Homo sapiens: one gene and its partners. The protein of the gene in region 2 interacts with the protein of the main gene of each other region in a biochemical or structural test. Each region holds a gene or a part of one and is shown on either strand. Other genes may lie near its edges.

Region 1 (4,045 bases), on a different chromosome or scaffold from region 2:
GGCGCTGAGTGTGGCCTCTACAGGCAGTGGCCCAAGCGCAGGCTGGCTCAGTACCCCTGCTGGGAATAGGACCCAGCTGTCCCCAGCTGTCGAGGGAGCAAGAGAGCCTTGGGGTTATGAATCCTTTCCTCCCCAACCCAAAGTCCGGCTGTCGGCTTCAGGCCTGGGGCTTCAGGGCTGGATGGTCCTGGTTCATGTGTGGTGAAGGGGCTTCAGCAAGGACACAGGTGTGTGAGTCTCTGCCAGGGCCACAGCCTGATGCCAAGGGCCTGGGGCTGGCCGAGGATGCAGAGGGACCTGGCATCGTGCAGTGGCTTCGTATAGTGGACTGTGGTCCTGCAGGTGTGAGGTGTGTGGCTCTGGCTTGGGTGTGTGACACATCAGCATGTGTCCACAGTCAGCTGTGGGGCCCACCACCTGAGAATGGCCTCATAGATGCCACCTGCCACTAGCAACCAGATTGGTTCACCTGTATGGGCCCAGGTGTGAGTCTGAGAACAGAGGGACTGCATGTCACCATGGGAGAAGGGCCATGCCTTCCACCATTGTCGCACCATGAAGAGGAGGACTCGTGGGTCCTGTGTACACTGTAGCATACAGAAGTCACAGAAGGCCAGGCGCAGTGGCTCACGCCTGTAATCCTGACATTTTGGGAGGCCGACAAGAGAGAATTGCTTGAGCCTAGGAGTTCAAGATCAGCCTGAGCAACATAGCGAGGCCCCATCTCTTTTTCTTTTTTCTTTTTTTTGAGACAAAGTCTCCTTCTGTCACCTAGGGTGGAGTACAATGGCGCGATCTTGGCTCACTGCAACCTCCGCCTCCCGGGTTCAAGTGATTCTCCTGCCTCAGCCTCCCAAGTAGCTGGGATTACAGCTGCCTGCCACCATGCCCGGCTAATTTTTGTAATTTTAGTAGAGACAGGGTTTCACCATGTTGGCCAGGCTAGTCTCGTACTCCTGACCTCAAGTGATCTGCCCACCTTGGCCTCCCAAAGTTCTGGGATTACAGGCGTGAGCCACTGTGCTCGGCCAATGAGGCCCCACCTCTAAGGAAAAGAAAAAAGAAGTCACTGAAAGTGTGACTTCAAGCAGAAACTCAAGTGATGAAGTACCTGTGTGTGTCAATACATGTAGCTGTGGCTTAGGCTCTTGTGTGCCTGTGAGCAGCGGTGGGTTCTGCAGTTGTATGTCCACCTGTTCCTATAGCTTACAGTTTTTTGTTTGTTTGTTTGTTTTTGAGACGGAGTTTCGCTCTTGTTGCCCAGGCTGGAGGGCAATGGCGGGATCTCGGCTCACCGCAACCTCCTCCTCCCGGGTTCAAGCGATTCTCCTCCCGAGTAGCTGGGATTACAGGCATGTGCCACCACACCCGGCTAATTTTGTATTTTTTAGTAGAGACGGGATTTCTCCATGTTGATCAGGCTGGTCTCAAACTCCTGACCTCAGGTGATCCGCCCGCCTCGGCCTCCCAAAGTGCTGGGATTACAGGCGTGAGCCACCGTGCCCGGTGCTTACACAGTTTTATGTCTGGGTGTAGTTATAAATTCTGTTGGGTTTTGTTTGTTTTTGAGACACGGTCTCGCTCTGTTGCCCAGGCTGGAGTGCAGTGGTGCAATCTTGGCTCACTGTGACCTTGGCCTCTCAGGCTCAAGCAATCCTCCCACCTCAGCCTCCTGAGGAGCTGAGATTACAAGTGCGTGCATGCCACCACGCCCGGCTAAGTTTTAAGATTTTTGGTAGAGACAGGTTTTCCCCATGTTGCCCAGGCTGGTGTTGAACTCCTGACGTCAAGCAATCCTCCTGCCCCGGCCTCACAAAATGCGTGAGCCACTGTGCTGGGCCAATTTCTGTTGTTTTATGTCTTTGAGTGGCTGCGGATCAGCGCTTGTGCTTGAAGGTGGTCAGTTTTTTCTTTAGGAGATAAGGAAGGGCCGTAACTTGAGTCATTTTGTGTTCCAGTGGGGTTGTGCTGTGTCTGCCTACGGCTGTGGCCCATGCCGCTGTGTCTGCGGGTGGCTGTGACTGTAGCATATGTTGAACTGTAGGTGACCCCCCCCCAGCCCCCGCTTGTGTCCTTGTGGGTTTGTGCATGGCTGTTACTTCTGGGCTGTGTCCGTGAGTGGCTATAGCTTCCTTCACTGTGCACATCTGTGTCTGCTTTTGCTTCCTTTGCCGTGGGTCTCTGTGTGGCTGTATCTCCCCTGTCACCATGTCTGTGTTTGGCTTTATGACACCCCCCTTCCCCCACTCTTTCTCCAGACGTGGCGGTTTCAGCTCAACTTAGCCTCCTCCCTCCTCATGCTAAACCCCTGGCCCTCCACAGGCGTTTGGACACATCTCTGGAGACCCAAGTCTTTGTGTGTTGCTCTCGGTGTGTCCACAAGCACAATGCCATAGAGCACGGATGGCCAGGCCAATGAGTGCCCGGCCCTGGGGCGCTCGTCCTCTTGTGCAGACCAGGCTGGCCGTGCACCAGCGAGTGTGCACCGAGACCCCAAGGGCGTGGGGTCTCCGCGCCCGGGCTCTATCTGTCCCCGACCACCCCCGAGCCCTCCCCGGGCTCACCATGCCGCGGTACAGCTCCTCCAGGCGCCCGTCGATCCACTTCTCCACGTCCAGCCGCCGCTGCAGCTCCCGCCGGTCATACTTGACGGTGACGCGCGCGTGCCGCTTCTGCAGCCCCCCGGGACTGCCCCCTGGCCCGCGGGCCCGCGATGGAGACTGCAGCTTGCTCAGCACGCGCTTGCCCAGCCGCTGAGCTGCCATCGCGCTGCTGGACCCAGCCTGGCCCCGCGCTGTGCGCCTTCGCCTCGCGCCCCGGGTGCTTCTTACGGGCCAGGGCGGGGCTAGCCGGGGGCGGGGGCTCGGGCTCGCCGGGAGGTCTGCCCCACCCCGGCCGCCTCAGGCCTCAGTTTCCCCGTCTGCAGTGCGAGAGTAGGCCGCTGCGTCGGCTTGAGGCACGCAGTCGTGCGAAGTTGAGGTATGGGCGGGGACCCAGAGTCCCGGGCGGGTCCCTGCATCGGGGGCTCCCGGGCCGGGATCCTGTGGGGCGGGGGCCTGGGACAGACACTCGGGACCCGGCCTGTCTGCGCCCTCTGGCGGTGGCGGGGTGGGGGGCTGTTGGTGCGGGAGCGCCTGCGCCGCTGTCGCTGTAGAAGGTCGAGCGGTCACTTGTTCCTTCGTTCATTCATTCACTCATCCATCCATTTGTTTGTTCACTCATTCCGTTCAACGAATTTTTTTTTTTTTGAGTCGATGTCTCTCTTTGTCGCCCAGGCTGGAGTACAATGGCGCGATCTCGGCTCACCGCAACGTCCGCCTCCCAGGTTCAAGCGATTCTCCTGCCTCAGCCTCCGAAGTAGCTGGGATTACAGGGATGCACCACAACACCCGGCTAATTTTTGTATTTTTAGTAGAGACGGGATTTCGCCATGTTGGCCAGGCTGGCCTCGAACTCCTGACCTCAAGTGATCTGCCTGCCTCCGCCTCCCAAAGTGCTGGGATTACAGGCGTGAGCCACCGCCACTGGCCCGGTTCAACGAATATCTATTAAGTATCCACTCTATACCAGACACTGCTTTACGCTCCAGGGATAGAGCAGGGAACAAAACAGACAAAACCAGTCCCACGCAGTTGACAGTTGTAGCCGGGATACATGAGAAACACAGTAAGTACGGTATTATACAGTTTATTATCATATAAGTGCTTTGGAGAAATATAAAGCAGAGAAGGAGAAATGGAGTGAGGGTAAGGTTGCAATTTTAGCGAGGGTGGCCAGGGAAGTCCCTTACTTCAAAACAGTCTTCTCACTTCTAATTATAAGCAGCAATAATTATACTCTAAAATTTAAATGTGGCTGGGCGCAGTGGCTCACTCCTGTAATCCCAGAACTTTGGGAGGCCAAGGAGGGTGGATCACGAGGTCAGGAGTTCAAGACCAGCCTGGCCAACATGGTGAAACTCCATCTCTACTAAAAATACAAAAATTAGCTGGGCCTGGTGGCACATGCCTGTAATCCCAGCTACTCGGAAGGCTGAGGCAGGAGA
Region 2 (3,500 bases):
CTCAGGAGTTTAAGACCAGCCTGGGAAACATGGTGAAACCCCCGTCTCTACTAAAAATACAAAAATTAGCTGAGTGTGGTGGGGTACATCTGTGGTCTCAACTACTTGAGACTGCAGTGGGCCGTGACTGTGCCACTGCACTCTAGCCTGGGCGAGAGAGTGAGATCCTGTCTCAAAAAAAAAAAAAAAAAAGAAAGAAAGAAAGAAAAAGAAAAAGAAATGTTTGCCGAATTAAATGGCATGAATGCCAAGCAGAGGACATCACAGAGAAGGCATGCCCCAAATCTACCAGTGAGAGAGGTGGGAGGTGGTCCCCAGTCACCTCTGCTTGACATCACAACACACCTTTCTCCAGCCTTCTCCAAAGGAACAAGGATGCTAAGAAGCTTTGGGCTGAGGCGTAGCTCTGAGAGCTGGGTACTGCATCGCAGGGATTCCCAGGGTCCTTACCACTGTCTGGAAGCAGGAGTGCAGCTGCGTCAAGAACGGGGGTTTGTCAAGCAGGGCCAAGACTCGCTTTTCTACCATGGTGCACTCCACGTCATCATCCTGAATCACCACATCCTTCTTCAGGATTTTGATTGCATACAGTTCTTCTGTGCCCTTCCTGTCGGCAAGCATCACCTGAGAACACGTCAAGAACAACCTGAACACTTGTAAGCACATATCTTGGGGGGCAGAGGGAAGGAACCAGGCCAGGTGACGGCTCAGTGACAGTTTGTGCACCTTTGTCAATGTGGAACATAAAAATATTAAACTTTATGTGCAAATTTGTAAATTCTACACATCACTACAAATTCAGTCCCTCCAGCATTTGCAAAACTTCAATGCTGCCAAGATTTGTAAATGGTATAGGCCACTGCCACATAATGGCACTATTTTGGCTGCTAAAATGAATACTCAACATTCTCTATCAGGATTAGTCTGGAATAATGCACATTTTTCAGGAGTATCCTTAGAGTGAAAGCTGACTGACATTTATAATCTCTCAAGTCAAGAACCTAGACTTGAAATCAGTTCCTGCGTCTATGAAATGTGGGGCCACAGAAACCGAATGGAGATACAGGCAAATTGCTGAAGACCCCATGTCAGTATCTCTTAATGATTGTATTTGCTTACTACAAGTGAACATTTAATTTTTAGTTGTGAAAACTATTCATCAACCAGCATTTCTGAGCATCCCTTCTGTTCTGAACACTGAGAAATAGTAACAACACAGTGAACCCACTATAGCTTTTTGGATGCAGTTGCTTTTAAGGAAGTAGAAACCAGGTGAGGACTGTGCACTCTGATCTGAGAGACCAAATAAATGCCTCTTTAGCGACTAAGATGGACCCTAATGTCGCAGGCATTTGAACCAGAGTGACTCCATCTTGAATAAGGGATGGGAAAAATAAGGCTGAGATCTGCTGGGCCGCATTCCCAGGAGGTCAGGCATTCTTAGTCGCAGGATGAGATAGGAGGTCAGCAGGGCTAGTATCACAAGACACAGGTCAGAAAGACCCTGCTGATAAAACAGGATACAGTAAAGAAGCCAGCCAAAACGCACCAAATCCAAGATGGCGATGAGAATAACCTCTGGCTACCCTCATTGCTCATTATATGCATTATTAGCATGTGAAAAGACACTCCCACCAGCACCCCAACAGTTTACAAATGCCATGGCAATGCCCAGAAGTTACCTTATATAGTCTAAAAGATGGAGGAAGCCTCAGTTCTGGGAATTGCCCACCCCTTTCCCAGAAAACTCATGAATAATAAAACCCTTGTTTAGCATACGATCAAGAAATACCTCTAAGTATACTCAGTCAAGCAGCCCATGCTGCTGCTCTGCCTATGGAGTAGCTGTTCTTTCATTTCTTTACTTCTCTAACAAACTGACTTTCACTTTATTCTGTGGACTCGCTCTGAATTCTTTCTTGCTTGAGGTCCAAGAACCCTCCTCTTGGGGTCTGGATCAGGACCCCTTTCTGGTAACATTAAAGTTAAGGAAATAGTTATCTATGGGTTGAGGGTTCAGGGCCCAGCTGGCATGGCAAATTTCTAAATCCCTACAGCTACAAGATAAACCACTCTCGCTAAACTCCCTAGCAGTAGGAGCTATCAGGCCCCTCCTAACTTTGATTGACAACTCAGATCACTATGACTTGGACTGGACAGAGAACTGGCCTTACAAACATTCTTTTCTGTGATGCAACTGCAGACCTGAAGCCAGTTTCAGCAGCTTGCAGAGCCTGCACACAAACTGTTTTTGGGTCCTGTGGTTCACCTTTTGATCTAAAGAGCCAACTTCCACCTTTTTTTATTTATTTACTTTTTTTGAGACGGAGTCTCCCTCTGTTGCCCAGGCTGGAGTGCAGTGGCATGATCTTGGCTTACTGCAACCTCCACCTCCCAGGTTCCAGCGATTCTCCTGCCTCAGCTTCCCGAGTAGCTGGGATCACAGGTGCACACCACCACACCCAGCTAATTTTTGTATTTTTAGTAGAGATGGGGTTTCACCATTTTTGCCAGGCTGGTCTCAAACTCCTGACCTCAAGTGGTCCACCTGCCTTGGCCTCCCAAAGTACTGGGATTACAGGCATGAGCCACCATGCCTAGGCAAATTCCACCTCATTTTAATGCTAAGTCCCCACCCCAAAGTGAACATAAGATGCATGTTACATATATGTTCATCCATTGTGCCTGTGCTAGGCTTCCCTCACAGATAAGTCAAGCTTTCCCCCCAAACCTGTTGAATATGGATGACTCTACTGTGTAACATGGACCCTGTGAGGCATAAAACCCAACCTGCCCTTTCTCTCCTCAAAGAGAGGGCACCTTCATTTCACACCATAGACTTTCTTTTATGGGTTTGCAAACTGATACCACCAATAAACCTCTCCTTTCTACCATTTAGCCATCCTGGTGGTCTTCTGGATGACTGTACAAATCACAGGGAAATCTTTTTTTTTTTTTTTTTTTGAGACGGAGTCTCACTGTCTCCCAGGCTGGAGTGCAGTGGTGCGATCTCGGCTCACTGTAAGCTCCGCCTCCCAGGTTCACGCCATTCTCCTGCCTCAGCCTCCCAAGTAGCTGGGACTACAGGCGCCCACCACCATGCCCAGCTAATTTTTTGTATTTTTAGTAGAGATGGGGCTTCACCGTGTTAGCCAGGATGGTCTTGATCTCCTGACCTTGAATCACAGGGAAATCTAATGTGCTATTCTGCAAACTACGAGGAGAACAAAACTGATTCGACATTCTCTGCAGAAGCCCCTGCAATTTGCAGACGACTGTCCTCTTACCTTTCCAAAACTCCCCTTTCCCAACACCATGAGGAAATTGAAGTCCGTGAGTTTCACTCGGTCAAGGTTGTTGGAAGGTTGTTTCCTGTCTTCAGAGGGACTGATGACTTTGTTGCCAGCAGGGCCAAGTTTGGCTTTCTAAATAACAAGCACAAATGGGAAACACGTGGGTCATTTTTCTGGGGAAAGAGTGACAGAAACCACCGTGTTGTA
Region 3 (3,500 bases), on a different chromosome or scaffold from region 2:
CTCAAAAAAAAAAAAAGTGTCAGGAGGTGGGGCCTTTGGGCAGTCATGAGGGTAGAGCCTCATGAATGGGATTAGTGCCCTTATAAAAGAGACTCCAGAGAGACCCCTCATCCCTTCCACTGGGTGAGCATGCAGCAAAAAGGGGCTGATTATGAACCAGCAAGAATGCCCTCACTAGACTCCACCTCTGCCCGTGCCTTGATCTTGGCCTTCTCAGCCTCCCAAACTGTGAGAAATCAATTTCTTTCTTTTCTTTTTTTTTTTTTTGAGACAGGGTGTCTCTCTGTTGCCCAGGCTGGAGTGCAGTGGTGCAATCTGGGCTCACTGCAACCTCTGCCTCCCAGGCTCAAGCAATCCTCCCACCTCAGCCTCCCGAGTAGCTGGGACCACAGGCATGTGCCACCACACCCAGCTAATTTTTGTATTCTTAGTAGAAATGGGGTTTTGCCATGTTGCCCAGGCTGGTCTTGAACTCCTGGCTCAAGAGATCTGCCCCCCTTGGACTCCCAAAGTGCTGGAATTACAGGCATGAGCCACTGTGCCTGGCCAAGAAATAAATTTCTGTTGTTTATAAGCTACCCAGCCTCTGGTATTTTGTTACAGTAGCCAAAACAAACTAAGATAGTAACAAAATACAAACTATAAAATAGCAGACACAGAACAGCTTCACCCTGATCCCGGATCCCAACCACATAAATGTATATGTCTGGATAATGGTGAAAGGAACATGGACAGCAGATATGACAGCTAGAGGCTCTGGTTCATTGGCTACTTAGCTATACCCTCAGTGTGAGAGCCCAAAGAAAAACAGCCTGGGTTCTGGTTGCCCATACTGGACTCCATGGAGACACTTTCCCCAAAGGGTTTTCCTGAGGATACCACCCATGGTAAAAGCACATGGGCTGCAGAGTCAGATGGGTGAGGGGTTTCAACCCCTCTGCATCAGCTGTGGGATGCTGGTGGAGTTCACTAAACTCTCTAAATCTGAGTTCTCACTTATAAAATGGGAACATGAAAACCTACCTTTGATGTCATTTTGATGTTTGTAAGTTAGCAGGAATTAAATGAGACAAAAGCCAAAACCCCTGACACACAGGCACTCAATGCATGGTAGCTACTGTGGTTGTCCTCTAGCAAGCAGCAGCAGTTAACCAACTTACCGCTAGCTCTGGGAACTAGGGGCCCTCGCTTAGATTTCCTCTGCAGTGGGGATCCTTTCCTTTCCATCTCTGATCCACTTCTACCCACAATAAAGGGAAGACGGAGGGCAGCTCAGCAATTGCTGCCATGATCAGGCCATGCTGGGGCCCTGCCCAGTGCCACCCACTGCAGCAAAGTGGCCCCACCAGCTGTCAGCTTTCCTTAGCCTCGAGCCTGAGTCTCTTCTCTCACCTTTGTTTGTTCTAGACATGGGAACCACCACAGATCCCAGTTGCTGGAGAACACAACTAGGAGGTGACTACAGTCCAGTAGTATAACAGCAGTTGAACTGACTCAGAGATGCTAACAACCCAGTCCTACACTTTAGGTGAGGCTTAGAGCCACCAAAAACTCCAGCTCACCAGTCAAGTGTTATTTTTATCCTGGATAAAAATTGTTATTTTTATTCGTTCAGAATGAATGCTGATCTGTTGTCCTTAATTTCTGATTAAGGAAATTCTTCCTCCAGGGTGTAAGAGCAGAGCAAACCTTTGCAGGAGTAATGACAGGCTGCTGCAGCGACCTCTCACCTCTGCCCCAGCTTCCCAAGGCCCCAATCACTCAGTCTAGTTCACAGCTGCCCACAGCAGGGCACAGGGGGCTACATACTTTTCTTTCTCTATCTCCATGGAAAGCCGCTTCATGTCAGTATCTTTGAAGTCGAAAGACAGGCTGTCACCAATGAGGTTGAAGCTTGGTATGTCAGGAGGCAACGGTGCTGGAATTGGGTTCATGGGCTGTTAATGAGAAATTTCGGATTAGGAGCTTGGGTCATACAAGCACAGAAGGACACTACTGTGTTGACAACCGATCCTCCAGCAGCCACAGAGGCAATGGGCACAACTCGGGTCCCACCTCCCAATGCCACCACGAGTCCCCATCCCTCCACTTCACTCCCTCCACATTTGCCACTGCCAGGTAAACAATATCAAAGACTACAAATCCAGGAAAATCATCCCTCAAATCTCTAACCGTTCTTCATGCTCAGCTGAATCAAACACAAACTCCCACTCGCTTTTTCATTTAGGAAACTCCCAGGCCCTGTGCAAGGGGCTGGAGATGCAGAAAACAAGACAGCATCCTTGGCTTTGAGCAGCTGAAAGTCTTGTTCAGGAAATAGATGTGTTCACAGATCATCACTGTTAAAAAAGGTAAACACTGTAGCCAGGGAGCGAACAGAGGCTAGAAGAGATGCTGCTTTTGCTGGGATCCAAGGCAGTGCCAGGAGAAGGTCTGCCGGACGGGAAGTATGGCAATGGGTGGGGCAGTGCCCAGTGAGGGTGCCAGGAGTCTGCCATGCAGTGTGGAGAGGTGGGGTGGGAGATGGGCACCACCACAAAGGGCTCCCCACCGGCCCACCGAGGGGCTTGGGCTTGGACAATGGAACCGGAGTAGGGCCTGAAGCAGGGGTGGTGTAGTTTTTTTTTTTTTTGGACTTTCATCCCAGCACAAAGGGTCATCTAAAGAGGACCCCAATCTAGCTTCCCGGCTTCTCCTACTATTTGCCCTACTAAGTCACAGACAGTATTGTTTATTATCCCCTGGACTACTGCCTTCCCATCTCTGTACCCCTGCCTATCCCATTTCTCCTCCCTATGCTCCATCCCTCTTTCAAGGCCCTTCTCAAACACCACGATCTCTCACCAAAGCCTTTCTAGCCCCTCCCAGCCAGCCGGCAACCCTTTTCTTTGCTGTCCCTTAACGCTGTGTTTACGGTTCTCTAATGGTTCTTCTGCGATTCCACCCTGTAAAAGATTTCTTTTTGGCTGTATCTTCTTTCTACTATTTGCAAGTTTCCTGCAAACAATCTGCCTCTTTTTCATCCTTGGATCCCGTATTGAGTCTAGGACAGTGTCTGGGAAAGAGCAGAGGCTTGGAACATTCATTTGAGACATTCTCAAGGCCTGAGGCAGACCGTCTGCAAGGGTGCTGAGAGAAGGCTCCTTGGGTGCCAGGGATGTCCTGTTTTCTGATCTGGGTGCTGGGTACATGGGTATGTTCAGTTTGTGAAAATTCTTCAAACTGTACAGTTGTAATTTGGGCACTTCTCTATGTGTATGTTACACATCATAAAAATTTTCAGCAAAAACGCGTACTAGTTGCTGCACCACTAGTGAGAGCATGAACTGGTATGACTTCTTTGGAGAGTATCAAAATCGAAAATTTGACCCCACAGTTCTATTATAAGAATTTATTCTACCAATATATCCACGTGTGTGTGTCAAGATTTGTGTTCAGGGATGTTCAGTGTCATTTTGTTCAAAATTGCAAAAGAAAACAGACTAAATACTCATCCATGA
Region 4 (3,500 bases), on a different chromosome or scaffold from region 2:
GCTTGGCCTCTAACTGTTTCTATTAACTATCAAGCAGTCTTTTTTTTTTTTTTTTCCTCCTTCAACAAATGCTGCTTCAGGGAAAATTATTTCTCTACTTGTCTTAGGATATCAGAAATTACTGCGATGGACTCAAAGTTGCTAAGGAATACTTTGAAGTCCTTCCTACACATAGTACTGGTAGTCTGCACATCACATATATTGACATGGTGTCTGAGAGCTTTTTAGAAGTTCAGAGTCTCAGCCTTTACCCAGATAGATGTGCTGACTCAGAATCTGCATTAACATAACATCCCTAGGTGATTTGCATGCACATTACAGTGTGAGAAGTGTCACCCTGGGTGATCTCCTTTCTGTTTGTGGCTTATTCACTTTGACTGTTAAGCTTTGAGCTGGAATGGTGCTGTGTAAATTCCTAATGTCAGTTTATGTTCATCAGTGACTTCACTGGCTGTTTACTAATAGTAATTTCTACAAAGTAATTGTTTTAGATCTTAGAAATGATCCTAGTCATCTTAACACTCAAGAGCTTCATGGTAGTTGGACTTTGAGGAAGAAGTAGAAGGCAATCATAGAAGCTGTGTGAGTGGGTGCTTCTCAGGTGGTAAGGGCCAAGGTGATAGAGACAGCGTCATATATGTGTTAGACACACACTTTGGTCAATTCTGATCGTGATTTGTTCTTTACCCTTTCTGTCCTCCCCATCCCTTTTTGGGCACGTGCAGGCTGAACTTCCTGTACTGATGCTGGGAAGATCATCTGACCTTCGGGCTGGAGAGTTTGTGGTGGCTTTGGGCAGCCCATTTTCTCTGCAGAACACAGCTACTGCAGGAATTGTCAGCACCAAACAGCGAGGGGGCAAAGAACTGGGGATGAAGGATTCAGATATGGACTACGTCCAGATTGATGCCACAATTAATGTAAGTCACTTAGGACAGAGGTGCCCAACCCATGGGCTGTGGACCAGTACAGGTCCATGGCCTGTTAGGAACTGGGCCGCACAGCAGGCTGTGAGCCATGGGCGAGTGAGAATGACTGCCCGAGTTCCACCTCCTGTCAGATCAGTGGCGGCATTAAATTCTCATAGGAGTGCAAACCCTATTGTGAACTGCGCATGCAAGGGATCTGGATTGCATGTTCCTTATAGAATCTAACTCATGCCCGATGATCTGAGGTGGAGCAGTTTCATCCCAAACCACCCCTCCGTCTGTGGAAAAATTGTCTTCCACAAAGCCGGTCCCTGTGCCAAAAAGTTTGGGGATTGCTGACTTAGGAGGCCTTTCCTCAGATCACACAATATTGGCAGTTCAGTGAGAAGAATATGTCAGAGTGAACTTTGGGGATGTCCAGGTTTGGTTGAATCACTGTGGGAGGAATGGAATGCCACTTTGTTAGAGTCTGTCTCGTTCGCTGTGATCGCTGGCATCCATGCTATTAGGTGGTCTGTTGTAGAGGTCACCCCTCCTGTAAGAAGGTGGTGGTCCCTTGGCCAGGCACGGTGGCTCATGCCTGTAATCCCAGCACTTTGGGAGGCCGAAGGGGGTGGATCATGAGGTCAGGCATTCGAGACCAGTCTGGCCAACATGATGAAACCCTGTCTCTACTAAAAATACAAAAATTAGCTGGGCATGGTGGCGGGTGCCTGTAATCCCAGCTACTCAGCAGGCTGAGGCAGGAGAATCACTTGAACCGGGAGGCAGAGGTTGCAGTGAGTCGAGATTGCGCCATTGCATTCCAGCCTGGGCAACAGAGTAAGACTCCGTCTCAAAAAAAAAAAAAAAAAATGAAGGTGGTGGTCCCACTGCTATAGTTCTTTACCTACACTGACTTTGGTATTGGTGATGATAGGGGCACAATTTTGCCGGCCTGGGGGGAATAGGAGCTTGGTGGGCTGCTTTTGGTAAACTGTTTTGGGAGCTATGTGTAAAGGACAAGGGGGAATGTATTCATTAGCTTCACTGATGTCTTTTTCAAATTCTGCTTTTAGTATGGGAATTCTGGTGGTCCTCTGGTGAACTTGGTAAGTGATCACTTTCCTTGTTGCTTCATGTTTCTTCTTAACTTTCAAAGACTTTATTAATTCCAGGCCAGGGGTGGTGGCTCATGCCTGTAATCCCAGCACATTTGGGATGACTGCTTGGGGCCAGGAGTTTGAGACTAGCCTGGGCAAGACAGCAAGACACCATATCTACAAAAACAAAAACAAAAAAGGACTTTACATATTCCATGATGCAGACTTGGGTGCCACTCTTGTGTAGAGAGCTGTGGAATGGTGCTTTTCTGTTCTTGGACCTTAAGTCAATAGTTAGAAAAAATTCAAGATTGTTATCCTGGTGTGTGATCTCATCCCACTGAGAACACTAGGGTTCTAGCTCCGGCTTCCTTTGAAATTTCTCTCTTCCCCGTGCTTTCTGTTTTCATTGGCTAGTTACCCAAAGCCCTGGATTTTATTTATTTATTTATTTATTTAATAGAGACGATGTCTCACTATGTTGCCCAGGCTGGTCTCAAACTCCTGAGTTCAAGTGATCCTCCTGCCTTGGCCTCCCAAAGTGTTAGGATTACAGGCATGAGCCACCATGCTGTGCCAAAAGCCCTGGATATTAAACCCAGGTTTATGCCAAATGACCAGCTTTGCTATGAAATGTAGGTCCTTGAAGACTCCTTGATGCTGCATATGAAGAACTATCTCTCATTTAAAAATGCTAATTACATAATGTCATCTGTCCAGGTTTTTAGTCTTGACCTCTTGACCTGCTTATAGATGAGAGAAAAGCCACAACCAGCACTCCTGACTTCAAGTGAGCTGCCTGCCTTGGCCTCTCAAATACATTGCCGTGTCATGTATTCTTAAATTGTATTCCGTGTCTCTAGTGGAAATGTCAGGGTTTCTAGTTGCCCAAATACATGTGAAAACCTAAGAGAGTGCAATGCTGTTTGACACATAGCATGTGATCATCCTTTCTGAGTCCCTTTGCACTGATTGCTTTTGGTTCCTGTTTAAATATTACATTTGCTTTTAGAATGAATTTTATGCAAAATGATTGTTTTTTTTTTTTTACTCATAGCATTGCATGTCATTTTTCTTTGTTTTGTTCCTGCCTTCTCCATTAGACAATGAGTTTACTAGAGCAGGGATGAAATGCAGAATTTCAGGCCATACCCCCGACCTACTGAATTACAATCTGTAGTTTAACACAATCAGAAATCTCTTTTCTGGCTGGGTACGGTGGCTCACTCCTGTAATCCCAGCACTTTGGGAGTCTGAGGTGGGTGGATCACCTGAGGTCAGGAGTTCAAAACCAGCCTGGCCAACATGGTGAAACCCCATCTCTACCTAACATACAAAAAAAAAAAAAAATTAACTGGGCATGGTGGCATGCGCCTGTAATCCCAGCTACTTGGGAGGCTGAGGCAGGAGAATCGCTTGAACCCGGGAGGCAGAGGTTGCAATGAGCCAAGGTTGCACCAATGCACTCCAGCCTGGGCAACACAGTGAG

What was found.
Region 1: the proteins of PRKCA (region 2) and PPP1R14A form a complex in vitro, tested with the Homo sapiens proteins (one study listed by BioGRID).
Region 3: of the proteins of PRKCA (region 2) and NF2, one has a biochemical effect on the other in vitro, tested with the Homo sapiens proteins (one study listed by BioGRID).
Region 4: the proteins of PRKCA (region 2) and HTRA4 interact in a test that uses a peptide from one of them, tested with the Homo sapiens proteins (one large-scale study listed by IntAct).

The regions. Positions count from the first base shown.
Region 1 is NC_000019.10:38,253,575-38,257,619, forward strand, and holds the start of PPP1R14A (protein phosphatase 1 regulatory subunit 14A), read right to left. Parts: upstream 2,801-4,045; 5' UTR 2,766-2,800; coding exon 2,565-2,765; intron 1-2,564. UniProt on the Homo sapiens protein: Inhibitor of PPP1CA. Has over 1000-fold higher inhibitory activity when phosphorylated, creating a molecular switch for regulating the phosphorylation status of PPP1CA substrates and smooth muscle contraction.
Region 2 is NC_000017.11:66,732,613-66,736,112, reverse strand, and holds part of PRKCA (protein kinase C alpha type), read right to left. Parts: intron 3,426-3,500; coding exon 3,288-3,425; intron 625-3,287; coding exon 451-624; intron 1-450. UniProt on the Homo sapiens protein: Calcium-activated, phospholipid- and diacylglycerol (DAG)-dependent serine/threonine-protein kinase that is involved in positive and negative regulation of cell proliferation, apoptosis, differentiation, migration and adhesion, tumorigenesis, cardiac hypertrophy, angiogenesis, platelet function and inflammation, by directly phosphorylating targets such as RAF1, BCL2, CSPG4, TNNT2/CTNT, or activating signaling cascade involving MAPK1/3 (ERK1/2) and RAP1GAP.
Region 3 is NC_000022.11:29,676,633-29,680,132, reverse strand, and holds part of NF2 (merlin), read right to left. Parts: intron 1,938-3,500; coding exon 1,810-1,937; intron 1-1,809. UniProt on the Homo sapiens protein: Probable regulator of the Hippo/SWH (Sav/Wts/Hpo) signaling pathway, a signaling pathway that plays a pivotal role in tumor suppression by restricting proliferation and promoting apoptosis.
Region 4 is NC_000008.11:38,977,228-38,980,727, forward strand, and holds part of HTRA4 (serine protease HTRA4 precursor), read left to right. Parts: intron 1-725; coding exon 726-920; intron 921-1,987; coding exon 1,988-2,020; intron 2,021-2,731; coding exon of another isoform or gene 2,732-2,764; exon of another isoform or gene 2,765-3,258; intron 3,259-3,500. UniProt on the Homo sapiens protein: Serine protease.